Regions from separate parts of the Homo sapiens genome. Here region 1 is linked to region 2. Evidence: fine-mapped expression QTL. A gene starts in region 2. The other region holds a variant in brackets. All regions are shown on one strand. Distances are from middle to middle. Region 1 overlaps MORN5 (MORN repeat containing 5). Region 2 holds the start of LHX6 (LIM homeobox 6).

Region 1 (2,811 bases), 36 kb before region 2:
CCCTTACAGGCATCCATTTTGGGAATGAAAGACCTATCACAATGGTGATTGTAGCTTCCATTCCTGGGTGCCCACCAAGGGCCGTTCATCCTGGTCAGTCCTCACTCTGCCCTCTGCAGAAAGTCTGGTGAAACCTGCTACAAAGACGAGGAGGGTGGCTCAGAGATGGGAGTGACGTGTCCAAAATCACCCAGCGAGTCGGTGGCTCAGCATCGGATCCAGGCTTGTTCGGCTCCAGAACTCCTTCTAGTCTTTGCTGTGTTGCCACATGAGCCCTGAAGTCCTACCCTCACAAGTTAACTTCTGGCGTTTCTTTTGGTTTTTGGCATTTCCTGTGCCCCAAGTGCTGTGCTAACCTTTTTTAGGAATGATCTCACTTGGTCCTCATGCAAGCCTTCAAGACAGGCATCTTTGTAGATGAGGAAATGAGACCTAGGGAGGTGTGAGGCCACTCGCTCAAGGTCTGTGGGCTAGTGACAGAATTCCAGTGCCCAAGCTCTTAACCATCATGCCACACTGCCCCCTCCCTGCGAATCCTCTGAAGAGCTGATATTTCCTTGCAGCTGTTCTGAGACTTTCAGGATCTCTTTTTCCCCCAGCTGTGCACTGACCTGCAGGCTGCACTAATGTCACCTGGTGACCTGGGCACAGCTCAGCAGACCCGGCACAGCTGTGCCCTGTACAGGTCAGCTCCTCCCTGCCTTCACTGAGAGGCAAGTCCCAGGCCAGCCAGGCTTTGAGCTTCCTGAGTGGGGTTAGTGCCCAGGTATGACCCCACACAACCCAGCCTCTCCATGTGGTAGGGCTGCCCAATCTATTGCCCCAAATCACAAAAGGAACCAGCAGCTGGCGGTCTTGGACTTGCCCTTGGCGTGCCTGCCTTGCCCTCTCACAAGCTCTGTTTGCCCAGGGTGGGGAAGAAATTCCTCCCCCTTTGTCAAAACCCCACAGGGTAAACCTGTTGCTTTTATGTCCCCAAATTTACATTTCTTTATTCATTATTCACCA[C/G]GTACTTATGAAATACTTTAAGTGCTAGATCTGTGCTGGGCCCTGACCATCAAAAGTAAATGGTACAGGCTGGAGGGGGTGACTACAACGAACACTGTGACTTCGGCTCAGGGAAGGCTAACATCCGGGCAGGGTCTGTGGGGGTAGGGGACAGCCAAGAGAGTATGAAGCCCAGCCCACACATTCATGGGGCCTTTAAGTATGGATTGTGACCCTGTTCATCAGACAACTCAAAATTCACACCCCCTTTCCTGACCATAGTGCCTCAGCACACTATGAACTTATACATTTTTGGAAGAAATCCTAGAATAATACACTCATATTACATTTGGTTGTTTGTGTTAAAAGCAGCAATTTGTCCGCCGGGCGCCGTGGCTCACACCTATAATCCCAGCACTGTGGGAAGCCAAGGCGGGTGGATCGTGAGGTCAAGAGATCGAGAACATCCTGGCCAACATGGTGAAATCCCATCTCTACTAAAAATACAAAAATTAGCTGGGCGTGGTGGCGCATGCCTGTAGTCCCAGCTACTCAGGAGACTGAGGCAGGAGAATCGCTTGAACCCGGGAGGCGGGGGTTGCAGTGAACCAAGATTGCGCCACTGCACTCCAGCCTGGCGACAGAGCGAGACTCCGTCTCAAAAAAGAAAAAAAAGTAATTTGTCAAATGTAAATGTTTAAACTATACTGTAATTGTTAGCACCTTGCTTAGGCCTGTTTTCAATTTTATATACACTAATACTACAAAATGGAAAGTACCTTGGGTCTCTGTTGTGTTCTGAGAGGCCCTGAACCCAAACCAGGTCCTGAAGGAGGAAGGGTGGTCCCTTGGGAATAGCAAGTGCAAAGGCACAGAGGCACTGGCGAGCATGCACGTGGACTACTGCAGTTCCTCCGGTGGCTGCATTTTACAGTGCGAGGGGAGCTGGGAGGGAAGCGGGGAGGGAAGCAGGCCTGGGAAGCAGGGGAACCTGGCGACCTTGAAGGCCAGGCTGAGGAGTGGAGAGCCTTCTCAGGGAAGTTTTTCACTGGGGTAGCCCATGGTCAGATTTGGGGTGTCTCTTGCAATATGTTTCTTTTCTTCTCTATAAAAAGCCCAGTTATCCCAATGACCTATGAGGGCAGGGCATGCAGGTGGCAGCGAGGTCACTTCCAAAGCTTCAGAACCGGAATAAAGACATCTTTCGGCCCCAAAGATAGACCTAAACCTGAAGTGCACCTGGGTCCTGGCAGCGCTCACTGCTGGTCTCAGTCCCACCTGTCCCTAACACTGGCCACATGGCTGGCCACAGGATTGGGCTTGCCAATTCATTCATTAATTCAAAAGCTATCAACTGAGAACCTACTATGTGCCAGACACTCCCCTAAGCACTGGGATATCATAGTGAACAAGCAGGCAGGGCTCCTGGTCTCACTGGAGCTTACAGTCTGGATAGGGAGACAGACAACATGCACGTAAACAAATACATATGCAGGGAGTGGCTTATGCTATGGAGAAAATAAAATGAAGACAAGATGGGGTGACTGTGAGTGGAGGCGGTTAGATTAGGGTCATTGAGAAGGTGACATTTGAGTTGAGACCTGGATGCCGAGAAGGGGGTGCATAGGGAATATTTGTTGATGGCAATTGACACAAGTCAGAATGAAAAAGGCTTATTCCAGACTTCATCTGGGAGAGTATTTATTAAGCACCTACTGTATGCTGGGTCTAGTGGTCAACAAATCAAACATGGTCCCTGCATTGAGAGCTTACAGTCTAATGGGAGAGAAAAACATTATATAAAAAAATATGCAAGCCGGGCAC
Region 2 (2,811 bases):
GAACGCAGGCGGCGGCGGCTGCTGAACTGGCTCCGCACAGCCTGAGCCCAGCGCCTCCCCGCGCCTGTTATATAAACCGGCGCCGAACAATGAGTCCTAACTTTGTAGTGGGCATTTAAAGCCCTTCCCCACAAAAGCGGTGTCTCTCTAATGAAGCAATTTGAATTTGGATTGGATTTTTTCCCTCTCTCTCCCCCTCTCCCTGCACTTAACCCGTGGCTCTTGAAGTAATCGCTTAGTTCCCTTGCAATCCAAGCCTCTGAGGGGGGAAGAAAAACACGCGCACACACACACAAACTACCTGCAATTAGAAATTGTCGTGAATGCCCAAGATAAGAGGTAGCCAGAGTGTCAATTCCAACTGTCAATCAGTGAGATCCATCAGGCCGCCCAAAGAATTGCAAATTTGATTTTTTAATGGTAGTAATTAAAAATCGAATTTTTTCTCTCTCCACCCGCCCCCCCACCCCACTCCCCTTCCTCGCTCCCTTCTCCTCTCGGCACAAAATGCAAAAAGGAGAAAAGAGAGAAAGAAAGAAAATAAAAAAGAGATGGGTGAGGGGCGGAGGGTGGTTGAAGAAAAGAAAACCCCGAGCGCGGTGAGCACCCGCCCGCCCGCCCGCCTGACACGCGCGGCGAAATTGAAGCAGCTATATTGACACGGATTCAGGCGCCTTTCGAGGGCCAGTCGGAGGGAAACCCGGAGCAAAAAGAGAGCGAGATCGGGGCGAAACGGGACCAAAAAGAGAAAAGAGAGGCGCTCAAGGGGAGGAAAAAGCACCCTCCAGCCCCTCGGCGCGCCGGGTACCGGCCCCGCGTCGGGATTCTCAGCGCTGCGCCGGCACAACCCCCGGCGCATCGGCGCTATCAGCGCCTATTCAGACGGACAATACCGGCCTCGCCTCCTCTTGATTCGCCTGTGTCTTTACTAAATCGCTTTTTGAGAAATTCCTCCAACATTTGCATAATGTGTTCCCGCTTTCCGCGACCCCCCCCCCCCGCTCGCGCGCGCGCTCCCACACTCACAAGCACACACTCACAGGCGCACCCTCGTACCCCTCCTTCCTGCAACCGCCCGCCACCCTGCTCGGCCCGGCTGGGTCCCGGACCCTGCCCGACCCCGGCCCGGGCCGCTCACCCAGTCGTTCGCCGGCTCACCTGGTCGGTGGCGGGGCCGCCCTCGGCCGGCAGCCGGCAGCCCTCGGGCAACGCCGGGGCGGCGTTCTCATGCTTCCAGTACATGGGCCGGGGAACCTCGGGCTCAGCGGGCGCGCAGCGCGGAGAGCTGCGCCGAGGGGGACCACAGCCGCAGTGGGAGCAGAGGCTGCTGCAGGAGCAGGAGGAGAGCCGAGGCGCCGGCCCCGCCGCCCCGGGCCCGGCCTCAGCCCCCGCCCCCGGCCCGCGCGCAGCCCCGGCCTCCCTGGCTGCTGCCGCCGCTGCCTCGGAAGAAGGTCCCGACAAACTTGGAGAGGCCCCCGCCCCCTCCTTCTTCTCCTCCTCCCCCTCTTGGTAGTCCTCCTCCTCCTCTCCCTCCTCCTTGTCCTCCTCCCCCTCCAGCTGCAACGGCGGCCGCCCTGCCGCTGGAGCCCCGCTCGGTTCAAGATGAGTCATGCGTGACCAATCCCCTCCCCGCCAAGGGAGAGCAAGACACACACGACGAGGCAGAGACCCAGAGAGAGAGACACACACACAGACACAGAGACACACAGAAACTCAGAGCTGCCGACAGAGAGACTCGGAGACACGCCAGTACACAAAGGCACCGGCGGGCACACATCCACCCAGCTCTCACTACCGCTCCTCCCTCAAGGGGCACCCATCTTCCTCAGACACTGCCCCACTCACAGGTACAGGAGGGACCCATGGCCATACCATCTGCGGAGATAGATTCCGTAGGAGGTCACACGTTATTACACTGTGTTGATGCAATCCCATGCCTGGTACATTTGTGTACACACTAATGTAAGTGATTACCTGTTCACATCATTTACACGGGCACGAGGCACCACACTTACTCTCACACACCTGCACAGATACCTCTGCTCTATAAGAACCAGACAGTGCACCAGCTCCCAGGGACTGAGGTGAAACGGGAGGGTAGTTTCCCTGAATTCTCTTGGAAGGGATTGCTTGGCACATTCCCCTTCCCTTCAGGATTTGCTTAACCACACAGTCCAATGCCCATCCCTTCTTCTCTAGGGTTCTACTGACAATGAGAATGGTAGGGAAGGCAGGAAGGCCCAGGCATTTAGACAGAAGACACTGCCCCCAGACACACAGACACAGAACCTTCAAACCCAAAGATGGAGCCTTACACACACTAACGCCCTGCAGCATACACAAGTGGACACTTAGAGTCTCAGCCCCCTTCTCCACACACAAACTGAGCCTAAAGAGACACATGTAAACATACATCATCTAAAAACAAATAAGCACACTCAGACATAGATCCAGCCCTACAGACACCATGACAGCCTACCCTCACCACATCACACATGTCATCACCTCCATAATTGCCCTCATTTACAGATGTAAACACCCCCCCACACACAATTGTTCTTCCATTTGTACACACAGCCATACTCAAGAGGGCACAGATTTTCACAGAGCTCCAAACCCATGTATAACCTTATGTCCTCTACTCAGGCACCCTCAAATATGTACTTACATCCTTACAGATGGTGAGACAACTATTGATAGGCATTTATAGGCAGACACATCACACACACTTCTGCAGCCATAGATTCCCAATAGTTATAGTCTCAGTTTGCACACACACAGGCAGGTTCTGACAGGCGCAGGTAGTAGAGG

What was found. PIP is the estimated chance that this variant, and not a neighbour inherited with it, causes the effect.
Region 1: its variant is the best candidate, but not a certain one, in a credible set for the expression of LHX6 in nasal epithelium (TOPMed, PIP 0.58).

Annotation. Positions count from the first base shown.
Region 1 is chr9:122,191,937-122,194,747 of GRCh38, forward strand. All of the region lies in intron 4 of MORN5 (MORN repeat containing 5), which reads left to right. Among named protein-coding and RNA genes, the nearest start is that of MORN5, 33 kb to the left of the region's middle. The variant C/G (reference allele first, on the strand shown) is at 1,009.
Region 2 is chr9:122,227,499-122,230,309 of GRCh38, forward strand. It overlaps LHX6 (LIM homeobox 6), which reads right to left and starts at 1,459. Exons shown (of 10, transcript NM_014368.5): 1 at 1,159-1,459. The coding sequence starts at 1,242.